Linked DNA regions of Homo sapiens. The protein of the gene in region 6 purifies or fractionates together with the protein of the main gene of each other region. This does not show direct contact. Each region holds a gene or a part of one and is shown on either strand. Other genes may lie near its edges.

Region 1 (3,985 bases), on a different chromosome or scaffold from region 6:
AGGTGGTCTGCCCACGTCAGCCTCCCAAGATGCTGGGATTACCAGCATGAGCCACTAGTCCCGCCCAGGATTTTTTTTTTCCTTTTTCATGAGCCAAAGAAAGACCCCAGACTAGCTAAGAGAGAGGCCCAAGGATACCTGAAGGCCGGGGAGGAGGGACAACCACTTGTTGGGGTGAACCAATCGCAGAGGCTCAGCAGGACAGAGGCCAAGGCTGAGGAGGCCCCCACAGAGAAACAGAGCCTGAGGACAAGGGGTTCCTCACAACACCTGTGCTCCCCGAAAGCTCCCCTCCACACCCCTCTCTAGGTGCCCTACTCTCTGGGGTTGGTGAAGGGGTGCCAAAAATGCAAACTGATCCACAGAAAAATAGAGTCCTGTATTTTAAAAATATATCTAGGTTTGTATATGGACATTCACATCACACAGACACACAGACACACATGCAGCCACACACACACACACACACAGAGACACCAAAGAAAAGTGCTTTAGAAATACACCAAAATGTGGCTGGGTGCGGTGGCTCATGCCTGTAATCCCAGCACTTTGGGAGGCTGAGGTGGGCAGATCACGAGGTCAGGAGTTCAAGACCAGTCCGACCAACAAGGTGAAACCCTGTCTCTACGAAAAATACAAAAATTAGCTGGGCGTGGTGGTGTGTGCCTGTAGTCCCAGCTACTCGGGAGGCTGAGGCAGAAAGTTGCTTGAACCCGGGAGTCAGAGGTTGCAGTGAGCTGAGATCACGCCACTGCACTCCAGCCTGGGCAACAAAGCAAGACTCTGTCTCAAAATAAAAATAAAAAATAAAAAGAAATAAAAAAGAAATATACCAAAATGTTAGCTGGGGTCTTCTCTGGGTAGTAAAGTGCTGGGGGATATTTTCCAAAGTCCTTCTTTACATTCTCTGAGTTTTTCCATGTTCTTCAATGAGTATTTAATAAGCAGATAAAAACTAATACAACAAAGGATTTTTTCTGTGTGCTTTTTTGACCTTTGGAGGAAGAGATTAGAGCTAGTCCCATAACCAGGTTATTTGAGTAGGTCTAACAAGCCCGTATTACCAGAAATTATCATCTGGTCATTTCCAGTCCGAGAACAGAACACTTGGTTGTCCTGGCATTTCCCAAGCAGGGGGAGGAGTTCTCTGCAGGAATAAATAAGCCTCAGCATTCATGAAAATCCACTACTCCAGACAGACGGCTTTGGAATCCACCAGCTACATCCAGCTCCCTGAGGCAGGTAATCCATGATGTTTTACATCCTGGGAGCGGAGGAATCTGTTTTTCCAGGAGAGTTTTAGGCAGCAGCCTGGAGTGTGTGGAGTGTGAGGGGTAAGCAGAGGCCAGGAGGAGGTGTACTCAGGTGTTAGGGGCCAGGGGTCTGTTCTTGGCTGCCACTGATTCCCTGTGCCTTTTTTAGAGGCATCCTCTGTGTCTGGGTTTTCACACCTGCAAAGGGTGGAGGTGCCCTGGGGCCTCTATGGTCATTTCTGCCTTGATACTTACAGATTCGGATTTGAGTCAGCTGTGCATCTGACCCTCAGGGAAGAGGTGCTGTCCCCTTGCCTGGAGCAGGGTGCAGCTCTCAGAACATGTGGCAGATGTGATTATTGCAGCAGGTCCCTCTGAGCAGAGGCCACAGGCCTCACCATGATTTCAGGGTCTCCATGGGGCTGCCTCGGGAGCTCCACTTCCCCAAAAGGACCCCTGGCCAAGTCGACAGATGGGCTGTGTCTCTGTCCAGCAACAGAAAAGACAAACTGCTGGGAAACAGCCAGCCCTCCAACTTGCCCAAACAGAAAAGACAAGCCTTTGCCCCTGAAATAATTCTGGAGAAAAATATTGTCTAACATTTATCCAGAGAAATGATTGCATCAGCCTGAGAGTGAACAGTTGAAGCAAACAAGGTGCCTCTGTCCCTGGGCTTGGCCAAAGGCATTTCCACTGGCCTCCCCTCCTTCCCCTCCTTCCCCTCCTTCCCCTCCTTCCCTTCCTTTCCTTCCTTCCCTTCCTTCCACTCTCTCTTCCCCTTTTCTTCTCCTCTCTCTACCCCTCTCCCCTCCCCTCCCTTCCAATCGCCTCTCTTCCCCACTCTTCTCCCCAGCACCCAAGCTGCCCCTTTTCTCTTCTGAATTCTAGGACTGAGTGGGCGGAGGCTGAAGGTGAATAATCTTGTTTGCTGCGGTCACCGGCTTGGAACTCAGCCCTTCCAGGGTCTCTTGTGCAGTAGCTCATGGCTCTTCTCTGGCTTGTAGTTTCAGGAAAGGGGTAGTATGGGAGGTGGTGACTGCTCGGTACGTCTAATATGAACCAGGTGCCTTCATCATTTATCTCACCTGAGCCACTTAACAGGTTGTGCAGAGACGGAAACAGGTTGAGAGATGTACAGTCACCTGCTTGCCAGTACACAGCAATCAAAAGTGGCCAAAATAAAATCCCAGTCCAAGTCTGGGAGACTCCAAAGCCCTCTCTGCCTTCTCCCCACTAAGAGGCCCTTCCAGGCTTATGGTGGACACAGACACCACGTGGCAACCTGGCAGGGGCAGAGAAGAACATTTGCCTTTCTTTGGTCTTGCTGCCAACCATTATCAGGGCCATCGAGGCTCCAGACACTGTACCAGGGACTTTCATTTCCCTCTCTCAGTCGACCCTCACTGCCACCCAGCATCACATCGTGGAGGCCTGTGGAGGCCACACCACGTGACATCTAGAGGCTGGGAGAGTCACTGTGGCCTCTATCTCTGCCCAGGGCTCCTTCATCCCTGGGTTCTACTTTGGTGGCAGTTGGGAGAATGAAGGAAGGGAGCCCCTGCTTTCTAATCCCCTAGGATGAGATCTGCTCACCAAGCAGGAGAGGAGCAGGCATTCTGATTGGACTGAACCTCGGACCCCCCATCAGCTTACAGACCGAGGAGCCAGGCAAACCTGGCTGCCCACTGGGCTCCTTTACCTGTTTGCTGTATGATCTTGGGCAAGCCCCCTCACCGCTCTGTGCCCGGCTTTTCCACTGCAAGAAAATGGCAACAATTATGGTACCTACCTCAAAGGGTGAAATGAAGCAGAGTGATGTGTGTCGGGTGCCCCAGAGAGCACCTACCTGAGGGAGGCTCCAAAGCTAGCAAGAGGCAGCAGGACAGGGACCAGGACGCAGGCTGGGTGGAGGGCAGTGGGAGGTGGTCGGGGCTCCATCTGGCCCTCTGAGACTTAAAGGAGCTTTGCTTTTCAGAGTTGAGAATGGAGAGAATGTTACCTCTCCTGGCTCTGGGGCTCTTGGCGGCTGGGTTCTGCCCTGCTGTCCTCTGCCACCCTAACAGCCCACTTGACGAGGAGAATCTGACCCAGGAGAACCAAGACCGAGGGACACACGTGGACCTCGGATTAGCCTCCGCCAACGTGGACTTCGCTTTCAGCCTGTACAAGCAGTTAGTCCTGAAGGCCCCTGATAAGAATGTCATCTTCTCCCCACTGAGCATCTCCACCGCCTTGGCCTTCCTGTCTCTGGGGGCCCATAATACCACCCTGACAGAGATTCTCAAAGGCCTCAAGTTCAACCTCACGGAGACTTCTGAGGCAGAAATTCACCAGAGCTTCCAGCACCTCCTGCGCACCCTCAATCAGTCCAGCGATGAGCTGCAGCTGAGTATGGGAAATGCCATGTTTGTCAAAGAGCAACTCAGTCTGCTGGACAGGTTCACGGAGGATGCCAAGAGGCTGTATGGCTCCGAGGCCTTTGCCACTGACTTTCAGGACTCAGCTGCAGCTAAGAAGCTCATCAACGACTACGTGAAGAATGGAACTAGGGGGAAAATCACAGATCTGATCAAGGACCTTGACTCGCAGACAATGATGGTCCTGGTGAATTACATCTTCTTTAAAGGTGAGTGTGCCTGGCTTGGGGTTCAGAAGAGGTGGATCTCAGGGCCATTTCTGTCCTGACTCAACAATGGTGTTATTAGGCAAACCACTGTAGAGGAGAGTGCCCA
Region 2 (4,071 bases), on a different chromosome or scaffold from region 6:
AGATCTATCTCCAAACTGTGCATGTAGCATTTTGCTCCAAATGAGTTTACTGGATACGTGGCCAATGAAGAGGCTGCCAAAGAAAGATCAGAGAGGGCCGGGATGTGTCACAAGACATACCTGCCCAGGTGTGGCTGGGCAAGGCAACAGTGATTGGACTAGGTGGGCAAGGCACAATGTCAAAGGATATGGTGGGATCAAAAAGATTCAACAAATGCAATGCTGAACCTTACAAGAACTGTCGTGGGATCCACTTTAAAAAGGCAACATAGCAATGGGAGATAGAAAACAGTCTATGCTCAGGACTCAGATAGGCAATAGGCCATCACCACAAGGAAATCCCATATCATAGACCTGCAGCTCACGGGATAAGAACCAGGAAGAGCACTTGAGGTAGTAGCAGCCAAAGTTGAAAGTCTTGATAAGTAAAACACAAGAACACAAAGTCAGGAACACTAACACTCAAAGGGCCACACAAGTCCAAGGATTGGTGCAGACATACAAGAGAGTGGTTAAGCCCCAGAAGAGGAGTACCTGACTCTAAATGATGTCGCCCATCTTCTTTAGTGGGAAAAGCAGAGTAGAACTGAGTTTCATGGGAGAGAATAATTGGCCTACCTGCAACAGAGAGGACAAGGAGGCAGGTGTAGACAGATTTACCCACTTGAACCCATTATAGCCCTCATCACTGCTCAAACATCACTCTATTATCAACCCTATTGTTTGTGGCAACTAACTCTGCTAATGAAAATAAGTAGTAAGAGTGTAAGACACTGCTGTGGTTGGAATAGGTCTTCCAAAGCTCATGTGTTGAAAACTTAATCCCCACTGCAGTAGTGTTGAGAGGTGAGACCTGTAAGAGGAAATGAGGTCATGAGAGCTCTGTCCTCATGCATGGATTAATGGTGTTACCATGGGAGTGGGTTCATTACAGTAAGAGTGAGTTGTTATAAGGGTGAGTTCAGCCCCCACGTGCTCTCATGCTCTCTTGTCCTTCCACCTTCCACCGTGGGATGATGAAGTCCAAAGGCCTTTGTCAGATTCTGACACCTTGATATTGAGCTTCCCAACCTTCAAAACTGTGAGAAATAAATGTGTTTTCTTTATGAATTATCCAGTCTGTGATATTCTGTTATAGCAACACAAAATAGACTGAAAAGACACTTCGTCCTACTGTTGATTTGCATGATTCTTTCTCTACAGCTACCTCGGCCCTCCTCAGAGCCCAGGAACAGATACCTCCTGGAGTATACCACATCTCCCTGGTACTTACAGACAGTCAGAACAATCGGTGTGAGATGCCACGCAGCTTGACACTGGAAGTCTGTCAGTGTGACAACAGGGGCATCTGTGGAACTTCTTACCCAACCACAAGCCCTGGGACCAGGTATGGCAGGCCGCACTCAGGGAGGCTGGGGCCTGCCGCCATCGGCCTGCTGCTCCTTGGTCTCCTGCTGCTGCTGTGTGAGTAGCCAATGTTTCATTCTCTGTTGGACCAGGTGTCCTCATTTGCAAAGGCCTCCATGCTGCCCTGCTCATCTGTGCAATGGGGAAAGAATATTCTCTGATGTTTTATAGGTAAAGCTAGGGGAAAATGGCATTTTCAGAAAGAATCTGAAATGTGTAACATGTCGCTTGCTAACAGTCTATATTCATATAGCAACACAAGTTATATATGTCAGACATTTAGAAGACAGCACAAGATAATCAAGAGAAAAGCAAATCATGAAGACTTTCTACACACTGTTAGTAATGTTCATGGTCAAAATTATGGCTTTATCCAAGAGTGTGGCACTTTCTAAGATGTTTTCTCTATATTCATTACATCTCATGAGATTCTAAGATAAAAAGAGAACACTAGTCAAACAAAGTTAGGGAAATACAAATAGGGTATCATAGGCTATTAAGATATCACCACATGCTATTAATATTAATTAATTAATTAACCCCCACTAATATTAATCAATAGCATATGATATTAATATTAATATCATATGCTATTAAGATAGCTAGGTTCTGAGAAGTTATTGCTTCATCTAGCATTTCCTCAAAATAGATTGCCATCTGAATATGCATCCCCTTTAATACTTTCACATTTAATATAACTAAGTTTATTAAACACATTTAGAAAACTATGCGTAAGTATCCTTTTCCAATAAAGGTAAAATTTATTCAATAGATAGGTTTCTGAAAAGTTGTATTTGAATCAAAATCATATAAATCAAATAGTATTTGATTGTAAGAGGTCTCTATTTAAAAGAACTTCCTGACTAATTCTTGTATAAACAAGAGAAATCCTTGCTAAATTCACACTTTCTTAATTTATTATAAAAATCACAGTTTTAGAGTTAAAATTAATTATATGATTATTAATTTTAAAACCACAAAAAGTAGAGAAAATGTGTAGACAACTACACATACAACCATCACTTCAACTGAACAGATATGAATGTTTTGCAATATTTTTTCAGGTCCCTTTTTTTAAAAAGAAATAAATTGCTATAGATACAGCTAATTGCCACACATGCTATATTTTTCCCTTCCTTATTCTCCAAAAGCATTTACTATTCTAAAGTTATTATACACCATTTAGTTTAAGAGCTGAAATTGACACTCAGAGATTTGGTTTTTCAATATCGTATTAATCAAGTTCAAGAACCAGAAATTTTTAAGTACCTCTATGTGAATCACTATGCTAGCTTCTAGCTGAAAAGGAAACTTGATTTTGGTTTTCATGCATGTCTAACTATAGGGGAAAAATACCATGATAAAGCTGTAATAGAAATTACTACAAAGGGGTAATTACAGAACATTTCACGGAATAGAGGAATCATTCAATTGAGCCTTGAAGAATGATTAGGATATAATCAGTATAAAAAATGGAAAAGGCATTTCCAAAAATTGACAGCATCAGCCAAGGCCAGAAAACACTTAGTATTTTCTGTTTTAGGAATCACACAGCCTTCGAAGGCTAAAGCGCGGGGAAATTGTGGAAAGTGAAGGAGCAACAGAGAATGCATTGGGACTAATTTGAAAGGGCTACATACACATGCTGTGGTGTTTGTACTTTATCCTATGAGAAAGAGGAGCTGCTAAAAGCATTTGAATAAAAGACTAACATGATCATATTTGTATTTTAGAAAGACAACCCTGGCAACAGTGTGTACAGTATAACAGTGTAAATTAGAAAGGAAAGAACACTTAAGAGGTCATTGTAAAAGTTCAAGAGAGATGATGAAGGTCAGATTTCGAGCTGTGACATGAGACTGGAAAATAAAGGACAAGTGTGCAGTGCATTACAGTGGCCCCTGGAGAGGATTGGGAGATTAATTGTTATGGTCTGAATGTGTGTGTCCCCCCAAAAAAATTCATATGTTGAAACTTAAACCCTAAAAAAATAGTATTAAGGAGTTGGGCCTTTACCTATATTAATTCAATCCTCATAACAACCTATGATGTAGATACTATTTATTCCCCCATTTTATGGATGAGTTAACTGAGCAAAGAAGGATGATATTACATGCCCAACATTACATAGCTGTTAAGTGGTACAGCCGAAATTTAAACCCTAGAATCTGACTTCGGAGGCTGCATGCTTAAACCCCTCACTAAGCTGCCTCTAAGTGAAGAGAGTTGAAACATTAGGATTCAGGTGGCCTTGGCAGGGCAGAGGTGGCAGTGGGGCCACTGACAACAAAGTGTGGGAAACACCTGCTTTCAAGAATAAGTATTTCACTCTTGGTCAGTTCACATGAGAATGACATTAATCTTTATTGCCAAGGATGTGCACAGAAAGATATTTACGCTGCCAGAAGAGTCCTCCAAGCTTAAGCCACAACTAAGAAATTCTTAAATTACAATTAAGAATGCATTGACAGCCATTGATTAGGCTATCACCCTAGTTACTGAGGGAGTTTTCTGGTTAATTACTGTTTACTGAGAGATAATTAGAGACTAGATTACCAAAACACCATCGTGCCCACCTAAAATCTGGACCATTCTGGTCATATATTTATCTGTGTATTCACCTGACACAATATACATAGCCCCAACATGTGCAAATAAATGCAA
Region 3 (4,591 bases), on a different chromosome or scaffold from region 6:
GGGGAAAACACCTTTCCCTTCTAGTTTTGAGAGAGTTCCTCTTGGCTCCCAGGAGGAGGGATTCTCTGACTTTGACACACATGGCCACCTTGGCAGAAAAGCCTTGTGGTATGGAAAATAAATTCATTTTTATGTCCTCTTCTCCCTTTCCATCTTTCAGCATAGATTTAACTCCTTTAAGCCAGACATCTGTTGGGACCTGGCCCTCAATCATTGGTTACCAGTATGTCAGGCACTCTGGACTTTCCAGTGATGCCACTGAGATGGCACCTGTCAAAAGAGCAGTGGTTCTGTTTCTAGATCGTGGATCTTCAGATAAATTCTACCATTTTCATTTCACTTCCTGAAAGTCAGGGTTGGCTTGTGAAAAGTTTAAACCACATGCTAAATGTGAAATGTCAACTCTCACTCTAAACTCTCCCTGTTCAGAGCATCAGATGAAGACTTCATTGAGTTTTATAGTGGCTTTCTGATTTTTGGTAGTCCTTTGAACAAGGGAGTTTGAAGTTTGCTGCATACTCTTAACAATTGTCTGCCCATATCCTGCCTGAAATACCATGAATGTTTATGGAAAGTATCTTTAATAAAGCTGGATGCAGTTTGGCTTGGAAAAAAAAAAAGCAAAACAAGGACCTTAACTACTGACAGCCAGAATAAAAAGAAAAGTGTATTGCATGCACATAACTTAAAAGAGGCTGGGAATAAATATGCTTAGGAAGATGAGACTATTTCTTTTTTAATTCTAAAATTAGGTATTCAACCAAACACTTCTAAAAGGAAAGGCTTTTTAAATATTTTTCTTAGCTACTCACTTTTAGCTGCAATGTGGGCTGTTCTCCAACCTTCTCACAATACAAACACATTTCTGGATTCTGGATTCCCAAATAAATGGGATCCCCTCTGCCTTGCTCAAGAGCCTCTGGATACTTGCATGTGATAACAGCAACAGTGACTGTAAAGATAAGAGGAGAGATGGTATCAGTTTCCTTTTGAAGTCAGAAAGATTATTTGATTTAGCAGGGCAGTATCCTCAAGTGGATCTGGAAGAGAGCTGAAGAGTGTAATCCCAACTAGACCCACCAAATGGCCAACCCCCATATTCATTCATTCATTCATTCATTCATACCATGTGCCAATCACTGCCCTAGTAAATGAGCAAACACAGAGAGCTAAGCAGACAACAGAGTATGCTCTTGAGATTCTCACGCCTCTGCTTGAGCACATGGAGATGGGGAGCTCCTACATCAAGCAGCCCCTCTGATTCTTGGAGAGCTTGGTCCCTTTTGCAAGTTTTTCCCAATGTGATGCTGAAACCTGCCTTTCTGTGGTATTCACCCATTTAGTCATTTTAGGACACCCTGAAGTCATGCAGAACAAGCTACTAGTCTTCCATAAGACAGGGCTTCAGATGACTGACAGCAGCTTTCCTATTCCCTTGGAGGCTCCTCCACCATCTCTGGCTTCTTCATCTTAGTGGAACCCAAAGTTCTCCCTGACTTCTCTTCCCAATTAGGTGTGAAATTCTCCCCACTCCTGGTGGGCCCCATTGTAAAGTCACACTTTTACAAAAGGCTGATGCCAGCTTCCCAGCCACAGCAGTGCAAACAGTGGGGAAGGCACAGGGTGACCACTCACCTGGGGTCACACTGTCACTTCGTGGAACTGCCACAAGGTTCTGACCCTGAAGGGTCCACACTTGCTGATTCAAATCATTAATAGTCCCAGTAATAGGTTTACACACTGATTTTGGGATAGAGAAAAAAATGAAGAAATATTATAATCAAGGCTGCTTTACTAGACCCAGGAGAAAAGTATCTAACCCAGGCCATTTTGTAAGGAAGGTGTGGGGTTTGCATCCCCAAACTGACAGCACTCACATCACCCATCAGCCTAGCCTTTCTTTCTAGTGAAGTTGTGAGCTCTGGTGAGGAAGGCAAGGGCTACCAAGGGAAGTCACTGGTTTAAGAGGGCAAACTATCAAGACAGAGGGCAATGAGCAGTCTCACAGAACCTGTGTGCCAAGGCCCAGCTACCCTCTTTTGTGCCTACTCTGTGCTTGGCCCCGGTGCTGGGGACTGGAGCTGGATCAGTGACTAAGCAATAGCTCCCACCCTCCAGAAGCCCAGGGCCCAGTGGTAGGTGGGCAGCACCAGGTGGGAAGGGCAGTGTACAGAGAGGAGCAGAGAAGGCTGGGGCTTCCACAGGAGATAGCGTGAGTGCAGAGGGCCTAAGCCTCCAGAGCCCCATCCCAACAGCATTTGATTCACTTGATTGATAGACGGCCCTTCCTCCACCATCAGCGTCTCCTGGAGTGCCTCTCATAGTGTGGTTGTCTCAGCACCTGTGAAAGCAGACATAGAACAGATGAACCACAAGAGATGTTTCCAAGACCTTCCAGGACACTAGCTCCACAGGCCCTCATTCTAGACAGGGAGCTGGGAAACCTGGCCTGACACGAAGCTCTGGGCAGAAGTTCTGAGCCACATCTGGGACGAAACTTGAAGGAAGCATCAGCAAAGGGAGAACAGGTAGAATTTTCCTCCACCTGGAGATCCAGATAGTATGGTAGTGTCTCCCCTAGGAGTTCGAAGGCCAGGCATAAAATTTGACCTTAAATAACCCACAGGCACCTGATGCCCTGACTCCTCTTCTCTGAAGCCTCCACCCCTTCATCGGCATTGTTTTTGCCTAGGAGCAGGGGAGGGTCCCATGCCAGGGCCACTCTGCCAGGATCCCAGCAACTCCCCAGTAAGAAGCAGCCACACATAGGACAAAGCACAGAGCCAGCCTGATGTGGCCCTTCCCTTCATTAAGCCCAAAGCACAGATGAGAGGAAAGGCTCCAGAGGGAGGGAGAAGAGGTTTTCCAGCTATTGACTATACCTGGCAAGAAAGGGTCTTTATCTACAGTCCAGGGGACTGAATCGTGGCTCCAGCAGCTTCCAAGGTCAGTGATGGGTTCTAATGGAGCCTGGATCATTTATCTGGATGAGCAGAGAAGGAGGCTCCAGCTTCCTGGGTGGGGCATGAGAAACGTATGACATGAAAGAAAACCAGCTCCTCCTACCAGAAGATCCTGTGAGGCTCGGAGGAAGAAATCACAGAATTAGCACAAGTATCACCTGTCCGGGCTCGCTGAGAAATAAGTGTTGAGCCAATCCGCACAAAATCAACCACAAGGAAATGAGGTTGATGACAGATCCTAGGTTTCTCATAAAGGGGAAACTAAGGGAATTTCCCAGAGTTCAGCTCTCCTGTCATGTCATTCTAGAGCTAGAACTGGAAATGCCAGGCACTCTCATGTCAGGGACTCCATCTCCTGGGACTGGGAGCCTTGCCCTCTGCAGTCAGGCTAAAGGCATCCTGTAAGAGCAAAATTAGCCACACGTCTCAGGCAAGGTCCCTGTGGCATTTCTCAACTACCCCACCTAAGGCCACACCTGAATGGAAAGCCAGGCAGTAGAGCTCCCCTACCTAACACTCTTTCAGCTCCATCCACATGGGGAGCCACAGGGACTATGCAGACTGGTCTTTTAACTGAGGCAATCCTAGTTTCAGGTACCCTCAAAATGCAGTGGACTCCAGAACTGCCTAAGGAAGTAAAGAGGTGGGCAGCGATTTCTCCCAAATCTGAGCCCCAGATGCCAGCTTATCCCCCACCCTCTGCCCTAGGTTCCTGATCAGTGGTAATAGTTATTTTTATATCTTGTTTATACACCCCATCCTATCTGCTGTAGCCAAGCCTAAAAATTTACTGAGGTATAAGTTAACTACTAGAGTGAAGTGAGTTTTAGGAGACAGACTTGAAGCACTAACAGCTTCAGGTTTACCCATCTATAAGGAAGAAAAGCACAAAGAATGAGACAGAACCTTCCAGATAAGCTCATCCATGAGCCCCTCTTCCCAGCCCTGCAAAGAGTCTCCTGACTCAACGTCTCTTACTTTTCACCCTAATCTCCTTTCTGGCCTTGGAAGAACACAGTCCTTTCCTGCCATGGCCCCAATTCTATCACTTTTGGCTTCCAGTGTTTCTGTGACCCTAGGAAAGAGTGTGGTAATGCCAGGTGCACTTTTGTTCAAAGTCAACCTGAGCCAGTGCCACCTCACTTGAGTCTCCATTGCCCTGTTAAAAATCCCCTCCATTACACATCAGTCAACATAACTCCTTTCTTGGGATGTTCACCACAAAACAGCATCTAAAATTCCCATCATTTGACCCCCCAAATCCCTTAAGCCTGAATTTCCAACTGGGATCCCTCTGAAAGCAGAATCCATGCTAGGAATTGCAAACAAAGGGAATTGAATAAAAGGAACTAGATACACGTGTGTTGGAAAGCCAAAGAAGATTAAGGGATTGCTGTGGTATCTCAGATAGTAACAACTACAGGAAGGAAACAAAAGGGAACAAAAGAACCTAGGTCTCAAAGGAGCGCTTTTGTAGGACTTATCCCCAGATATGAGTCGGAGGTGAGGCGTTCTCTGCCAAATTGATGCTCAGACCTCTGAAAAGAGAGTACAGTCTGGTCAATGCTTGGAGCATGAAGGTGGAGGGGAGGGGTCAAGAAGAGGATGCTCAGAGGACTCACAGGACA
Region 4 (3,618 bases), on a different chromosome or scaffold from region 6:
AGGAGAAGGAGAGAATATTCCAGGGTGGAGAAATAGTTTCTACATTATATACTCATTGGGTTTCCATTATGTGCCAAGCATTATGCAAGGTGCTAAGAGACAAACTTATATGTCCCTAACCTTAAGGTCATCCCAGGGGCCACAGACTCCAAGTTAAGGTACTACAGTGCAGGGAGGTGCATACAAACATTGCCAGATCAGATAGCTGGGGGTGTCTCAACTCAGTAAAAGCTTCTTGGAGGAGGTGACATCTTAGCAGGGTATTGAAAGATGAGAGATTTATCTAGGCAGAGAGGATGGATGGAGGACCCAAAAGCAGAGGGAGCAGCACAAGACTGTGTCTGGGCCCATGGACAAAGAGAGTGTGAACAGGGTCTGAAACACAGCCTAGCATCCGGAGCTCATGTTCTTGGCAGCCCTGAGAGGCCTGGGGTAGGAGCTGTGCTGCCTGTTGCCTGAGGACTTCAGCTGAATCTGGGCTGGAGCTGTGAGGTCCATAGAGGCAGCCTTGTCTGTCCTGGCCACCTCCTTGCCAGTGCCTCAGTGGACTCTCAACCACCAAGCTGGTCCAACAGGTGAAGTGCAGGTGGAATACCTGGGGCTCAGATATGGGCTCCTCCTCTGGCTTCTGCTCCCATTCCCCAGGGTTTGGGTGGGGACACTGGAGTTCATTCCTGGCACATAGGACAAGAGGATCTCAATCTTGCAGAACCAGATGACTCAACAAATGCTGTATTATTAGCTTTTAAATAGAATATTTGGGTAAATGAAGGATAGTTGTTCATTGTGAGAAAGAAAATAAAAAATATTGGAGAAAATTGCAATAATAAAACAAATGCATTTGTTTCTCTTTCTCTGCATATTATTTATCTATTGCTGCATAACAAGTTAGACCAAAACTGAGCAACTTAAAACAACAAACATCGATTATCTCACAGAGTCTCTGCTTCTAGGTTCACTAATGTGGCTGTGGGCAGGAGACTTCATTTTTTACCACGTAAGTCTCTTTATAGGCCTGCTCATAGCATGGCAGCTAGCTTCCCCCAGAGCGAGTGAGCCAAGATAGATTGGGGGCGGTGGGTGGCAGAGAGAGAGGGCTCAAGTAGAAGCTGCAGTGTCTTTTATAACCTAATCTTGGAAGTGGCATGCCATCACTTCTGCCATATTCTATTGGTCACAAAGACAACTTTGGTACATTGTGGGAGGGGACACACACAGAATGTAAACACGAGGAGACAGGGATCATTTTAGCAGCTGTATTAGTTTCCTAGAGCTGCTGTAACCAATTATCCTTGGTGGCTTAAAACAGCCGAAATTTATTCTTTCTTCGTTCAGGAGGCTGGAAGTCTGAGATTAAGGTTTCAGCAGAGCCGTTATCCCTCTAAAGCCTCTAGGGAAGAATTCTTCTTTGCCTCTTCCAAGCTTCTGATGGTTGCCACAATCCTTGGTGTTTCTTAGCTTGTGGCTGCAAAACTCCGATCTCTGCCTTCATCTTTACATAGTCTTCCCCGCATCTCCTCTGTCTCTGTGTCCTCTCCTTTTCATACAAGGAAACCAGTCATATTGAATTTAGGTCTACCTTCATCCAGCATGACCTTGTCTTAACTAACTACATCTGCAGAGACCTTATCTCCAAATAAACTCACAGACTGAGATTCCAAGAAGGATGTGAATTTGAGGGGGACACAATTCAACCAGTACAGCAGCCTTCTTAGAGACTGGATCCAATGCCTTGGAATCCCAGGGGCTGTGATCCTTCTAGGAAAGAATTACCAGATGATTTTTGTTCTTTAAGTTCCTTACCCAGAGATTCCAGCCACACAAACTCAGCACAGCCTCCTCCTCAGTGGCTTTGCTGAGATCTGTTTCCTGATCACTACTACAACCAACCAGAGCAGCAGAGCTCGATTCAATTTGAATTTACTCTGGGGAAGTGGAGGCTGAGGACAATCAGAGATGATGTCTACTCTGCTTACCTCAAGATTAATTTCTTTTCTTATTTTTATACAAGGAATTCATCTTCATTGTAGAAAAATTAGGAAATACAGGTAAATTAACAGAATTAAAAGAAAAATCACCTATACTGCCACCACCCTGACATTGCTACAATTGAAGTAAACTCTTCCAGACTTTTTTCTATAAAGAAATATATAAATAGGTATCTTTTAATTAAAATAAATTGCAATATATGCCACTTTGTAAGTAGGTCTTCTCAATATGTCATGAGCACTTTTTCATGGGAATAGAGACCAGCATCTGGGATTTTGATTGTATCTTGGGTTTTTAAAAGAGGATCAGCATACCCTACTTATCTTTTATCTTCTGAGCTCGAGCCATTTCTTCTGACATCAGCACCTCCTCATGCCCACAACAAGATGATGAGGGAAGAGATAGGAAAGGTAGCATATGACAGTGGCAGGATTAAAGGGAAGGAGGTGGGGCTGGGCCAAGGGCCATAGATCCCTGACTCTATGACCACCTCCCTCTCCTGCATAGTGGTGAGTGACAGGTCTTCATGTGGAGAGCTACTGACCCTATAAGGCTCAACTGGGGATGGGTTGGCCTGCGGGGCTCAGGGTAACACTGGTCAGTTACCATTAAGCAGGAATGATTCCCACCACTCCCCCACCCCACCTCCACAGAAATCTTTTCATGTTATTCCCAGTTTACCCCACATGGTTTTTACAAGATTCCACAGCAGTAGCACCATCCAGTGGGGGAGGACCGTGGACTGAGCTCCAAATCTCAGAATTTATCCAAACTGGGAACCAGAAGACAAAGTGGTCAGGTGCCCACTAAGTCAGACGTGGGGGTCCTGAGAGCAGAGAGAGTGATTGTCCGCCATGGGTCTCCTCCACTCACCCCTCACCCGAGCTGGCTCTGCCCAGGGAGTTCTGGGGGGCACGTTGCCCTAGTCACACTGCTGGAAGTAGAAGTCTGTGATGGGGGCATTCCAGCCACCATTCTCGGGAAGCTGGGTGAGTCTGACAGGCTGATCGGCTTCAGGCACCGTGCACAGGAACCAGCCCGGGTAGGCAGCCGACTCGAAGCTGGAGGTGAGCCCCATGTCCCGCCGGTAGAAGGTGAAGCTCTTGGATTCCTTGGCACCAAGATAGAGCTCCATGATGTTCACTGGCTGCCGGCAGAGGAGGGGAGGTCAGGTGAGGGCAGAAGCAGGGGCAGAGGGAGGGCTGGGCAGGATCCTTAGGGAGGAGGCAAAGCTGCCATCAACAGAATCCTGCTAGGGTGTCCCACAGCACCAGGGCTGTGGGCTGCCCGGCTTCAGTAGGCTCAGCATCTGTGGCTGAGTCCCCAGTGAGGATGCCCCAAGTCTCACCTCTAGTGTTAGAGTCGGCTCCTGCCCCACCCCACATGACAGGCACTGGCTTCCACCCTGGACACCCAGGATGACGGGGGACAGGCTGGCATCCAGCCACCGATTGGGGACCACGCTGATCTCTTCACCTGTGGGAAAGAGGCCAGATGCAGGGCCCTGGATGCCTTTCCCTCCTTCTTCCCCTGTCCTGGGCTCTAGGGCACAGGACTGCTGTAAGACGGCCTGCCCCCAGGCTGGGCAGAAGGGAGGCTTCTCAGCAGCTGTCATGACATGGCTTCTCC
Region 5 (4,071 bases), on a different chromosome or scaffold from region 6:
CACCTCAGCCTCCCGAGTAGCTGGGATTACAGGCACCCACCACCCCATACTTGGCTAATTTTTGTATTTTTTATACAGATGGAATTTCACCATGTTGCCCAGGCTGGTCTTGAATTCCTAAGCTCAAGCGATCCTCCAGTCTCGGCCTCCCAAAGTGCTGGGATTACAGACATGAGCCACCGCGCCCCGCCTAAAATCTCTTTAGTATCTGGTTTGGTAACTGACAACTGGATTCTCCTCAGATCTGTTTTCATTTTAGTCTGTTGTGATTTGTTGTTTTGGATTTTGCCTGTGAAGAAAATCTGTTCTTGCACAGACATGTGGTTGAAACAGGGAGAAAAGTTGCTTGTTTTTTGACACAGGGTTTGGCTCTGTCAGGGTTTGGCACTGGAGTGCAGTAGCACAAACATGGCTCACTGCAACCTCAACTCCGAGACTCAAGCGATCCTCCCACCTCAGTCTCTTGAATAGCTGGGACCACAGGGGCATGACACCATGCCCAGCTAATTTTGTTTTTTTTTTTTTTTTTTTGAGATGGAGCCTCACTCTGTTGGCCAGGCTGTAGTGCAATGGCATGATCTTGGCTCACTGCAAGCTCCACCTCCTGGTTTCAAGCGATTCTCCTGCTTCAGCCTCCCAAGTATCTGGGATTACAGGCATGCACCACCACACCTGGCTAATTTTTGTATTTTTAGTAGAGACGGGGTTTCACCATGTTGGCCAGGCTGGCCTCGAACTCCTGACCTCAAGTGATCCACCCACCTCTGCCTCCCAAAATGCTGGGATTACAGGCGTGAGCCACCGTGCCTGGCTCTAGTCCTACTCTTTTCTATCTGTGCCAGTTCCTCAGTCATTCCTTATCTTTCCTTGTTTTTCATGTCTTTTACATCTTCAAAGAAGATAGTTTCTTCTTTTTTTTTAGATAGGGTCTCACTCTGTCACCCACGCTGGAATGCAATGGCGCAATCATAGCTTACTGCAGCCTCTAACTTCTGGGCACAAGTGATCCTCCTGACTCAGCCTCCTGAGTAGCTGGGACTACAGACGTGCACTACCATGCCTGGCTAATTCTTTTTATTTTTTGTAGAGACAAGGTCTCACTATGTTGTCCAGGCTGGTCTCAAACTCCTGGGCTCAAGTGATCCTCCCACCTCAGCACCCCAAAGTGCTGGGATGACAGGGGTGAGCCACCATGCCCAGCAGAGAGAGGGTTTCTTAAAGGTTAGTTGCAATGTGGAATCAGAAACCACATGAATGAACTGGCTTGGCATTTGCCAGCCTAGTGACCTTGGACAAAGCGCTTTGCCTGGAGGCCTCTGTAAAAATGGGAAAGGCAGTAAAAACCCATCTCGTAGTGCTGCTGTGACAATCCAGTGAGATCATGGCTGTCCTTTTTCAGCCTACACAGTAACAATGGCAAATACACTCTTATAAGTGCTTTAGACGGATAACTCATTTAACCTGGTATCAACCTTAAGCTGTAGGTACCATTGCTACTCCCATTTGACAAGAGAGACTCACAGCAGGGGAAGAGTCTGACCCCAGTTCACACAGCCTGGGAATCTGAATGCCGGCAGGCTAGCTCAGAAGCCCACGATCTTTGTGGGTTTGTTTGTTTGTTTGTTTGTTTGTTTGTTTGTTTTGAGACAGAGTCTCACTCCGTCGCCCAGGCTGGAGTGCAGTGGTGTGGTCTTGGTTCACTGCAACCTCTGCCTCTCAGGTTCAAGGGATTCTCCTGCCTCAGCCTCCCGAGTAGCTGGGACTACCAGCGCGCATCACCATGCCTGGCTGATTTTTGTATTTGTATTTTTGCATTTTTTTTTTTTTGAGTCGTAGTCTCACTCTGTTGCCCAGGCTAGAGTGTAGTGGTGAGATCTTGGCTCACTGCAACCTCTGCCTCCCAGGTTCAAGCGATTCTCCTGCCTCAGTCTCTCAAGTAGCTTGGACTACAGGTGCATGCCACCACACCCAGCTAATTTTTGTATTTTAGTAGGGACGGGGTTTCACCGTGTTGCCCAGGCTGGTCTCGAACTCCTGACCTCAAGTAATCTACCCACCTCGGCCTCCCAAAGTGCTGGGATTACAGGCATGAGCCACTGTACCCGGCCCCTAATTTTTGTATTTTTCAGTAGAGATGGGGTTTCACCATGTTGGGCAGGTTGATCTTGAACTCCTGGCCTCAAGTGATCCACCCGCCTCGGCCTCCCAAACTGCTGGGATTACAGGTGTGAGCCACCATGCCCGGCCTATTTTAAAACTTTTAAATTTTGTACTACTTTTGGATTTAGCAGAAACATTCCAAAAATATTACAGAGTTCCTGTCTCCCCTCACTCAGTTTCCCCTGATGTTAACATTTTACGTAACCATGAACAATGATTAAAACTGAGAAATCAAGATTGGTACAATCCTGTTAACTAAACTACAGATCTCATTTGAATTTCACCCGTTTTTCTACTAATGTCCATTTCCCCTTCCAGAATCCGATCCAGGATCTCACATTGCATTTAGCTGTTGTGCCTCCCTAGTCTCCTCCCATCTATTAGTTTCTCAGTCTTCCCTTGTCTTTCATGCTCTTGGTATTGCCGAGTACCGATCAGCTATTTTGTACAGTATCTCTCGTTTGGGATTTGTCTGATACTTTCTCACCACTGGAATTAAGTTATGTATTTTTGGCAAGACTATCATAGATATGATGTTGTGCCCTTCTTGGCGCATGATACGAAGAATCAAGATGTGGCTGTGACTTATTGCTGTGACTTATTGATGTTGACCCTGATTGTTTCATTAAGGAGGTGCCTGCTGGGTTTCTCCACTATAAAGTAATTATTCTTCCCTTTGTAGTTAATAAATATCTTGAGGGAGATGGCTCAAGACAATGCAAATCCCATTTCTCCTCAATGTTTGCTCACTAATTTTAGCATCTTGTTAAAAGATCCTGCTGATAAGTGGATCTTATCGGCAACAATTAGTGTGGTATTTGCCTAATGGTGATTTTCTAATTTTCTAATGCCCTCCTTCTTTTTTTTTCTTTTTAAATTTTATAACCTTTGTTTTGTTTTGTTTTTGAGACGGAGTCTTGCTCTGTTGCCCAAGCTGGAGTGCAGTGGCGCAATCTCGGCTCACTGGAACCTCCACCTCCCAGGTTCAAGCAATTCTTCTGCCTCAGCCTCCTGAGTAGCGGGGATTACAGGCGCACGCTGCCATGCCTGGCCAAGTTTTTGTAATTTAGTAGAGACGGGGTTTCACTGTGTTGCCCAGGCTGGTCTTGAATTCCTGAGCTCAGGCAATCTGCCTGCCTCATCCTCCCAAAGTGCTAGGATTACAGGCATGAGCCACTGTGCCCGGCCAATAACTTTTAATTAATTAATTAATTAATTTTGAGACAGAGTCTTGCTCTGTCACCCAGGCTGGATTGCAGTGGCGCGATCTCAGCTCATTGCAACCCCTACCTCCCGGGCTCAAGTGACCCTCATCACTTCTGCCTCTTGAGTAGCTGGGACTACAGGGATGCACCACTATGCCTGGCAATTTTTGTATTTTTGTAGAGACAGAGTTTCACCATGTTGCCCAGGCTGGTCTGGAACTCCTGGGCTCAAGCAATCCACCTGCCTCAGCCTCCCAAAGTGTTGGGATTATAGATGTGAACTACTCGCCCAGCCTTCCCACTTCTTTTTTTTTTTTTTTTTGGTCTATTGTTCCTATTCAATATAGTAGCTCCTTCCATCTAATTGAAATTTTATTATAAGAAAGAGCTGTCCCTCCCTGCTCCCTTTATTACTTTATTCAATGATTTATTTACATCATGGACTCATGGATATCCATTTTATTCCATGGGTGAAAAATCTGATGTTATGATTGTCCCAGATTTGGTCTCTCAGAATTCCTTCAGATTGCGTTCTGTGTTCTTACAACAAGCCTCCATCATTTGTGAGCACTTCCTCACTTGATGACATCACAAATGATTCCAGGCTCCTCTTGTGTATTTCCTGTTCCATCCTGGGAAGCACCTATTTCCCACAATAAGTTCCAGTTTCTTTTCTTTCTTTTTTTTTTTTTTTGAGATGGAATTT
Region 6 (4,071 bases):
GGGGTGCCTCTGCCCGGCCGCCCCTTCTGGGAAGTGATGAGCCCCTCTGCCCGGCCACCACCCCGTCTAGGAGGTGTACCCAACAGCTCATTGAGAACGGGCCATGATGACGATGGCGGTTTTGTGGAACAGAGAAGGGGGAAAGGTGGGGAAGGGATAGAGAAATCGGATTGTTGTTGTGTCTGTGTAGAAAGAAGTAGACATGGGAGACTTCATTTTGTTCTGTACTAAGAAAAATTCTTCTGCCTTGGGATGCTGTTGATCTATGACCTTACCCCCAACCCTGTGCTCTCTGAAACATGTGCTGTGTCCACTCAGGGTTAAATGGATTAAGGGCGGTGCAAGATGTGCTTTGTTAAACAGATGCTTGAAGGCAGCATGCTTGTTAAGAGTCATCACCACTCCCTAATCTCAAGTACCCAGGGACACAAACACTGTGGAAGGCCGCAGGGCCCTCTGCCTAGGAAAACCAGAGACCTTTGTTCACTTGCTTATCTGCTGACCTTCCCTCCACTATTGTCCTATGACCCTGCCAAATCCCCCTCTGCGAGAAACACCCAAGAATGATCAATAAAAAAAAAAAAAATTAAAAAAAAATTATTTGAAGTGAAATATGAGTAATTCCTTAGCATTTATCACAATCTGGATGGAATTTCTCTTAAAGATCATGCAATTTCCTTGCTGATTCTATATGTACTAAACAACCATCTGATTGCTTTTGATTTCTTGATACTTGAGAAATTCAAAGACAAGAGTATGCTAACAAACAAATGAGTTTTATAGTCACTGAAACAGAATACCCTCAGTTATAAATTTATAAATTAATCTGCTGGCACAGGTCAGATGCACTTAAAGTCAGATAAGATGAGCTAGTCTATTCAAGACCTAATTAACTATCATTCAAAAGCTGCAGATTAGAGGATAAAGCACATACTTTAGGGACACTGAATAAATATTTGCAGAATGAATGAACAATGTGAGAGTTCCCTGTCTCTGTGTTAGTAAAAAAGTTTTACTCATGCCAATGAAAAAGTCAAAGAAAATGGACCTCATTTCAGGGAAACTTATTAAGTTGGTGTGAGGAACACACTAATAATCCCACAAAGGCTAATCTCTGACATCTGATTTCTTAAATACAAATACAAAGTACTCTTTTTCTTTTTTTTTTTTTTAATTGATCATTCTTGGGTGTTTCTCGCAGAGGGAGATTTGGCAGGGTCATAGGACAATAGTGGAGGGAAGGTCAGCAGATAAGTGAACAAAGGTCTCTGGTTTTCCTAGGCAGAGGACCCTGCGGCCTTCCGCAGTGTTTGTGTCCCTGGGTACTTGAAATTAGGGAGTGGCGATGACTCTTAACAAGCATGCTGCCTTCAAGCATCTGTTTAACAAAGCACATCTTGCACCGCCCTTAATCCATTTAACCCTGAGTGGACACAGCACATGTTTCAGAGAGCACAGGGTTGGGGGTAAGGTCACAGATCAACAGGATCCTAAGGCAGAAGAATTTTTCTTAGTACAGAACAAAATGAAAAGTCTCCCATGTCTACCTCTTTCTACACAGACACGGCAACCATCTGATTTCTCAATCTTTTCCTCACCTTTCCCCGCTTTCTATTCCACAAAACCGCCATTGTCATCATGGCCTGTTCCCAATGAGCTGTTGAGTACACCTCCCAGACGGGGTGGTGGCCGGGCAGAGGGGCTCCTCACTTCCCAGTAGGGGCGGCCGGGCAGAGGCGCCCCTCACCTCCCGGACGGGGCGGCTGGCCGGGCGGGGGGCTGACCCCCCCACCTCCCTCCCGGATGGGGCGGCTGGCCGGGCGGGGGGCTGACCCCCCCACCTCCCTCCCGGACGGGGCGGCTGTCCGGGCAGAGGGGCTCCTCACTTCCCAGTAGGGGCGGCCGGGCAGAGGCGCCCCTCACCTCCCGGACAGGGCGGCTGGCCGGGGGGGGGGGGGGGGGGGGGCTGACCCCCCCACCTCCCTCCCGGACGGGGCGGCTGTCCGGGCAGAGGGGCTCCTCACTTCCCAGTAGGGGCGGCCAGGCAGAGGCGCCCCTCACCTCCCGGACGGGGCGGCTGGCCGGGCGGGGGGCTGACCTGACCCCCCCACCTCCCTCCCGGTCGGGGTGGCTGGCCGGGCAGAGGGGCTCCTCACTTCCCAGTAGGGGTGGCCGGGCAGAGGCGCCCCTCACCTCCCGGACGGGGCGGCTGGCAGGGCAGGGGGCTGACCCCCCCACCTCCTTCCCGGACGGGGCGGCTGGCCCGGCAGAGGGGCTCCTCACTTCTCAGACGGGGCGGCTGCCGGGCGGAGGGGCTCCTCACCTCCCGGACGGGGTGGCTGCCGGGCGGAGACGCTCCTCACTTCCCAGACGGGGTGGCTGCCGGGCGGAGGGGCTCCTCACTTCTCAGACGGTGTGGCTGCCCGGCGGAGGAGCTTCTCACTTCTCAGACAGGGCAGTTGCCAGGCAGAGGGTCTCCTCACTTCTCAGACGGGGCGGCCGGGCAGAGACGCTCCTCACATCCCAGACGGGGTGGCAGGGCAGAGGCGCTCCCCACATCTCAGATGATGGGCGGCCGGGCAGAGACGCTCCTCACTTCCTAGATGGGATGGCGGCCGGGCAGAGACGCTCCTCACTTTCCAGACTGGGCAGCCAGGCAGAGAGGCTCCTCACATCCCAGACGATGGGCGGCCAGGCAGAGACGCTCCTCACTTCCCAGAAGGGGTGGTGGCCGGGCAGAGGCTGCAATCTCGGCACTTTGGGGGGCCAAGGCAGGCAGCTGGGAGGTGGAGGTTGTAGCGAGCCGAGATCACGCCACTGCACTCCAGCCTGGGCACCATTGAGCACTGAGTGAACGCAACTCCGTCTGCCATCCCGGCACCTCGGGAGGCCGAGGCTGGCGGATCACTCGCGGTTAGCAGCTGGAGACCAGCCCGGCCAACACAGCGAAACCCCGTCTCCACCATAAAAATACGAAAACCAGTCAGGCGTGGCGGCGCGCGCCCGCAATCGCAGGCACTCGGCAGGCTGAGGCAGGAGAATCAGGCAGGGAGGTTGCAGTGAGCCGAGATGGCAGCAGCACAGTCCAGCTTCGGCTCGGCATCAGAGACAGAGAGAGACCATGGCAAGAGAGGGAGAGGGAGACCGTGGGGAGAGGGAGAGGGAGAGGGAGAGGGAGCCATTGTTTCATCTTACCCCTGAGAAACAAAGGCCCAGCGAGGTCAGACGCTTGCCCTTGGCCTGGGCCACACAGTGAGTGAAGGTCAGAGCCTAGGCGGGAAACCACCTCTTTCACGGCAAAGCCTTTGTTCTGGCCTCACTCCTCCACTTTCACTCTTCTCCGCTCAGATCCTGCCCATCCCCTGGGCTCACAGGAGATGCCCCTTGGAGGCCTCCAGGCCAGCGCCCACCCCTGTGGCTGTGGCATCCTCTCCAATGGCAGGCACAGACCTGGACCCTGTTGGCGCCAGCCAAAGTACTCTTTTTCTTGAAATGAGGTCTTGCTCTGTCGCCCAGGCTGGAGTACAGTGGCGCAATCTCGGCTCACTGCAACCTCCACCTCCCAGGTTCAAGTGATTCTCCTGCCTCAGCTTCCTGAGTAGCTGCGATAACAGGCAACCGCCACCATGCCTGGTTAATTTTTGGATTTTTAGTAGAGATGGGATTTCATCATGTTGGCCAGGCTGATCTGGAACTCCTGACCTCAAGTGATCCACCTGCCTCGGCCTCCCAAAGTGCTGATTACAGGTGTGAGCCACCGCACCCGGCCATTAAATACAAAGTACTCTGTCTACAGTGAAACCCGTAGAATGAACAGGAATCTGAGATGCAGCCCATGGAAACCATAAGTGGAATGCCCATATGCTCCTTCTCAAAGCAAGAGGACAAAACTGTTATCAGGAAGAAGCCATGCTAAAATTCAATCAATTTTTAAAAATGTATAAAACATGAAATTGTACTTTCAAAACATACAGTGACATCATAATGACAATTACTGTAAAGTAACAACCATATGGAACAATCTAGGCAGGCCTGCTAGCTGGGTATAGTAATAGGCCCCAAAGATATACT
Region 7 (4,054 bases), on a different chromosome or scaffold from region 6:
AATCCCAGCTACTCGGGAGGCTGAGGCAGAGAATTGCTTAAACCCGGGAGGCAGAGGTTGCAGTGAGCTGAGATCACACTACTGCACTCCAGCCTTGGTGACAGAGTGAGAGAGACTCCGTCTCATAAAAAAAAAAAATGTAGGTTTGTCCTTCCAAATTGTTTATCAAATTTTGGTAGATTCAGGAGTTGGGTAACACACAGTAACTGGGCAGCTGATATAAAGTCTGTATTTTTATAACTACTCAAGAGCCAGGAAGCCAGCTTTCTGCTAGCATCTTTCTCCTAACATACCATTGGCACATGAAGTTATTATTTCAGAGCTTAATTATATTTCCTGACTACACAAAAAGCCAATGCATTAAAAAAAGGCCCACCTTTATATACGAATTAAAATTTATTTCAAACTGTTTTGTACATCTTTTTAAAAAATGAAAATTCAAAAGTCTTAGAATTAAGCAATGAGTCTTTGATATCATAAAGCTGTGTATAACAATAATTAAAGTAGTGGTAACATTTTACCCTTGTAAAAATGTCACAGAATTAAAATCTCAACTTGGATCCTCAATGATTCAACTGGTTTATCTTACACAATAAGCGTTTGGTCAGTTTCAAGATAAAATTTCCCCAGACATGCTGTCCTTAAGTCCTTCCTCCTCACCATCCATCAGCTCACACATTGGGGTAGCTGGCTGCTGTGGCGATTCCACAGTGGTTGTTCTTGTCTTTGGCTATTTTTACATAGCCATTCGAGCCCCATTCTGGACCCCAGCTGAAAGAGGAGCAGGTTTTCCATTTTATACAAGGAATCAAGGGAAAATTGGCTCCATTAATAATAATAGCTAATACTTAAACAGTGCTTCCCATGTGTCAGGCACTATTCTAAATGCTGTTAATATCCATTTATAAATGTCCTGAGGCTGGGCACAGTGGCTCACGCCTGCAATCCCAGCACTTTGGGAGGCCGAGGTGGGCAGATCACTTGAGGTCAGGAGTTTGAGACCAGCTTGGCCAATCTGGTGAAACCTCGTCTCTATTAAAAATACAAAAATTGGCCAGGTGCGGTGCATGCCTGTAATCCCAGCACTTTGGGAGGCTGAGGCGGGTGGATCACCTGAGGTTTCAGGAGTTTGAGACCAGCTTGACCAACATGGTGAAACCCTGCCTCTACTAAATTAAAAAAAAAAAAAAAAAAAATTAACCGGGCATGTAATCCCAGCTACTTGGGAGGCTGAGGCAGGAGAATCATCATTTGAACCCAGGAGGCAGAGGTTCCAGTGAGCCAAGATTGCACCACTGCACTTCAGCCTGGGCAAGAAGAGCAAAACTCCATCTCAAAAGAAAAAAACAAACAAAAAAACCCCCATAAAAATTGGCCAGGCGTGGTGGCGCATGCCTATAGTCCCAGCTACTTGGGAGGCTGAGGCAGGAGAATCACTTGAACCCGAGAGGTGGAGGCTGCAGTGAGCCGAGATTGCACCACTGCACTCTTGCCTGAGTGACAGAGCAAGACTCCATCTCAGAATAAAATAAAACTGGCTGGGCACGGTGGCTCATGTCTGTAATACCAGTGCTTTGGGAGGCCAAGGCAGGCGGATCACATGAGGTCAGTTCGACAGCAGCCTGGCATACATGGTGAAACCCCGTCTCTACTAAAAAATACAAAAAAAATTAGCTGGGTATGGTAGCACATCCCTGTAGTCCCAGCTACTTGGGAGGCTGAGGCAGGAGAATCACTTGAACTCAGGAGGCAGAGGTTGCAGTGAGCTGAGATCGTGCCACTGCACTCCAGCCTGGGTGACAGAGCGACACTCTGTCTCAAAAAATAAATAAACAAATGAATGAATGAATATATTGATTCTTGTGGGTCCTTAACTATTTAAGATACTGAGGCAGAACTGGAATTCCACTGTAGCAGTCTGTCCCCACATACTACCTTATGTCACATCTCAATTAAAGAATGCTAATTGTGAGAAAATAGATTCTGACAACCTTCAAAGCCTGAGAGCTGGGGAGTGAAATTCGATGACAGGGCATCCAATGACAATAGAAGGATGCACACAGACCACTGGACTCCCGGATGATCTCTCAGACTTAACAAAGAACCAGCAGAGGCAGATGTTTCTGCTTACTATTCCTTGTTGAAAAATTAGACAGAAAAAAGCAATCAGCTCTCAAACCTACAGGTCCACAGTCCTTTGTCTGAAACCCTTGAGGACTAATGTGTTTCAGAATTTAAAAATTTTCAAAACTTAGTAATAAAATATTACAAATACATAGCAATAACTCCAAAAAGCTTGGTACGGAATCTTATAATCAAACATTAATATTTCTGTGTTCACTCTAAGTAGAAGAAAGACTTTCGGAATTTTGAAATTGAGCTTTTGTGAACTTGTATCCAAATACTGATTTGGAACAAAAATTCCCTTTTCAATTTTGAGTTTTATACCTGTTTTTGACGAGCCAATACTTGCTGTTATTCGAATTTGCTCCTTCAAAGCCGTAGCCAACCACCAGAACACCATGATCCAGGTTTTTGCTGCTGCAGTCTGGTTCAAAATAAATGCCTGGGAGAGTAAAATTAATGCTGGGGTGAGAAGCTCCAAGCGACATGTGACAGTAACCCACCCTACCACCCTCCATAAGGGAGGCATCTCTAAATTCAGTAAAATGTCATAAACAAATGCCAAATAAGGACCCAAACAATATTGGCCGGAAAACAGTAATGGCTGATAAAGGAAAAAAGTCAACCTCAACTCACTAGAAATCAACTAACTTCAACTAAGTTCAAGATATTTTCTACCAAAAAAAATGAAAATCCAAAAGATAAAACCTATTGTTTACAGCTAAGGTGATTTAGATATCTCTGAGCCCAAATACCAACTCGCATAATCCCTTTCTGTTCCTAGGATGTCAGTCTAAAATAGCACCAAAATAAACAAACAAAAACTTGAAGGGGATTCTTTACAGTCCTAATTACAGTAGTAAAAAACTTTGAGAAAAAAAGGCCCAACAACTGGAAAATAGTTTGGAAAATTAGGTTGTCTCTATACAATTACATAGCCATTTAAAAATATTTATGAGAAGTTTAACATAACTAAGTATTTTCTCATGTCAAATGCAAACATCACTATGTTAAATGCTCACTCTCAAAATACTACATTCCTGCAAAGCAGGATGTCATATCCAAGAATCAATCACAGTGATGCTTCCCAATTCTGCCTAAATTTCTATAATAAAATGACACTTACCTGATTTGTAGAACTGGAAGGACGAATGGCCTGCATCCATAGCAACGGAGATGGGCCCCACAGTTGCGACTGCTTTCATCAGGGCCTTCTCCTTTCCAGGTGCGACCACTGTGAAGCCAGTGTCATTAGCAACAGAATTCTCAGGTCTGTACTTACAGATTTCATCCTTTTAAAGTTAAAGGGGGAGAGACTTGATCACTACCATCTACCTCCTGGGGAACATTAGTTCTAGAACCGAAACACTCAGCAATTTGCAACCTAGGATTTCCAAATCAACACCCTTATAAATCGTCCCATGAAATAAAATGCTATTTGTTGATTTGAAAATGAAAAATTAGTTGACATTTCTTCAATGAGAACCCCTAGGTCAATCTGTCCATAAAAAATTTTTCACAATGGATAAAGTTCTATTATATGTAGAATGGTTTGCTTATTCTCCATGTTATGTAAAAGCAAGAACAGCTGTGTGTTAACCATCTAATGGTACTTATATGGTAACCATTAGCTGTTGACCATCTCACCAGAGAACTGTGCAAAGGCTAATAATTTTTTTTTTTTTTTGAGATGGAGTCTCGCTCTGCGGCCCAGGCTGGAGTGTAGTGGTGCGATCTTGGCTCACTGCAAGCTCCGCCTCCCGGGTTCACGTCATTCTCCTGCCTCAGTCTCCTGAGTAGCTGGGACTACGGGCACCCGCCACCAGGCCGGGCTAATTTTTTTGTATTTTTAGTAGAGACGGGGTTTCACTGTGTTAGCCAGGATTGTCTTGATCTCCTGACCTCGTGATCCGCCTGTCTCGGCCTCCCA

Evidence for each region.
Region 1: the proteins of RNF115 (region 6) and SERPINA3 purify together in Homo sapiens (affinity purification with mass spectrometry; one large-scale study listed by BioGRID and IntAct). This does not show direct contact.
Region 2: the proteins of RNF115 (region 6) and DSG3 purify together in Homo sapiens (affinity purification with mass spectrometry; one large-scale study listed by BioGRID and IntAct). This does not show direct contact.
Region 3: the proteins of RNF115 (region 6) and IL36G purify together in Homo sapiens (affinity purification with mass spectrometry; one large-scale study listed by BioGRID and IntAct). This does not show direct contact.
Region 4: the proteins of RNF115 (region 6) and IL36RN purify together in Homo sapiens (affinity purification with mass spectrometry; one large-scale study listed by BioGRID and IntAct). This does not show direct contact.
Region 5: the proteins of RNF115 (region 6) and ACP7 purify together in Homo sapiens (affinity purification with mass spectrometry; one large-scale study listed by BioGRID and IntAct). This does not show direct contact.
Region 7: the proteins of RNF115 (region 6) and CTSV purify together in Homo sapiens (affinity purification with mass spectrometry; one large-scale study listed by BioGRID and IntAct). This does not show direct contact.

The regions. Positions count from the first base shown.
Region 1 is NC_000014.9:94,611,206-94,615,190, forward strand, and holds the start of SERPINA3 (alpha-1-antichymotrypsin precursor), read left to right. Parts: upstream 1-1,185; 5' UTR 1,186-1,242; exon of another isoform or gene 1,243-1,334; intron 1,335-2,141; exon of another isoform or gene 2,142-2,164; intron 2,165-2,830; exon of another isoform or gene 2,831-3,034; intron 3,035-3,228; 5' UTR 3,229-3,236; coding exon 3,237-3,879; intron 3,880-3,985. UniProt on the Homo sapiens protein: Although its physiological function is unclear, it can inhibit neutrophil cathepsin G and mast cell chymase, both of which can convert angiotensin-1 to the active angiotensin-2.
Region 2 is NC_000018.10:31,467,886-31,471,956, forward strand, and holds part of DSG3 (desmoglein-3 preproprotein), read left to right. Parts: intron 1-1,203; coding exon 1,204-1,464; intron 1,465-4,071. UniProt on the Homo sapiens protein: A component of desmosome cell-cell junctions which are required for positive regulation of cellular adhesion. Required for adherens and desmosome junction assembly in response to mechanical force in keratinocytes.
Region 3 is NC_000002.12:112,976,370-112,980,960, reverse strand, and holds the start of IL36G (interleukin-36 gamma), read right to left. Parts: upstream 2,956-4,591; 5' UTR 2,883-2,955; intron 2,342-2,882; 5' UTR 2,323-2,341; coding exon 2,268-2,322; intron 1,741-2,267; coding exon 1,636-1,740; intron 953-1,635; coding exon 813-952; intron 1-812. UniProt on the Homo sapiens protein: Cytokine that binds to and signals through the IL1RL2/IL-36R receptor which in turn activates NF-kappa-B and MAPK signaling pathways in target cells.
Region 4 is NC_000002.12:113,061,971-113,065,588, reverse strand, and holds the end of IL36RN (interleukin-36 receptor antagonist protein), read right to left. Parts: intron 3,466-3,618; coding exon 3,338-3,465; intron 3,137-3,337; coding exon 2,912-3,136; 3' UTR 845-2,911; downstream 1-844. UniProt on the Homo sapiens protein: Inhibits the activity of interleukin-36 (IL36A,IL36B and IL36G) by binding to receptor IL1RL2 and preventing its association with the coreceptor IL1RAP for signaling.
Region 5 is NC_000019.10:39,087,121-39,091,191, forward strand, and holds part of ACP7 (acid phosphatase type 7 isoform 1 precursor), read left to right. Parts: intron 1-4,071.
Region 6 is NC_000001.11:145,764,845-145,768,915, forward strand, and holds part of RNF115 (E3 ubiquitin-protein ligase RNF115), read right to left. Parts: intron 1-4,071. UniProt on the Homo sapiens protein: E3 ubiquitin-protein ligase that catalyzes the 'Lys-48'- and/or 'Lys-63'-linked polyubiquitination of various substrates and thereby plays a role in a number of signaling pathways including autophagy, innate immunity, cell proliferation and cell death.
Region 7 is NC_000009.12:97,032,278-97,036,331, forward strand, and holds part of CTSV (cathepsin L2 preproprotein), read right to left. Parts: intron 3,417-4,054; coding exon 3,251-3,416; intron 2,567-3,250; coding exon 2,449-2,566; intron 772-2,448; coding exon 672-771; 3' UTR 1-671. UniProt on the Homo sapiens protein: Cysteine protease. May have an important role in corneal physiology.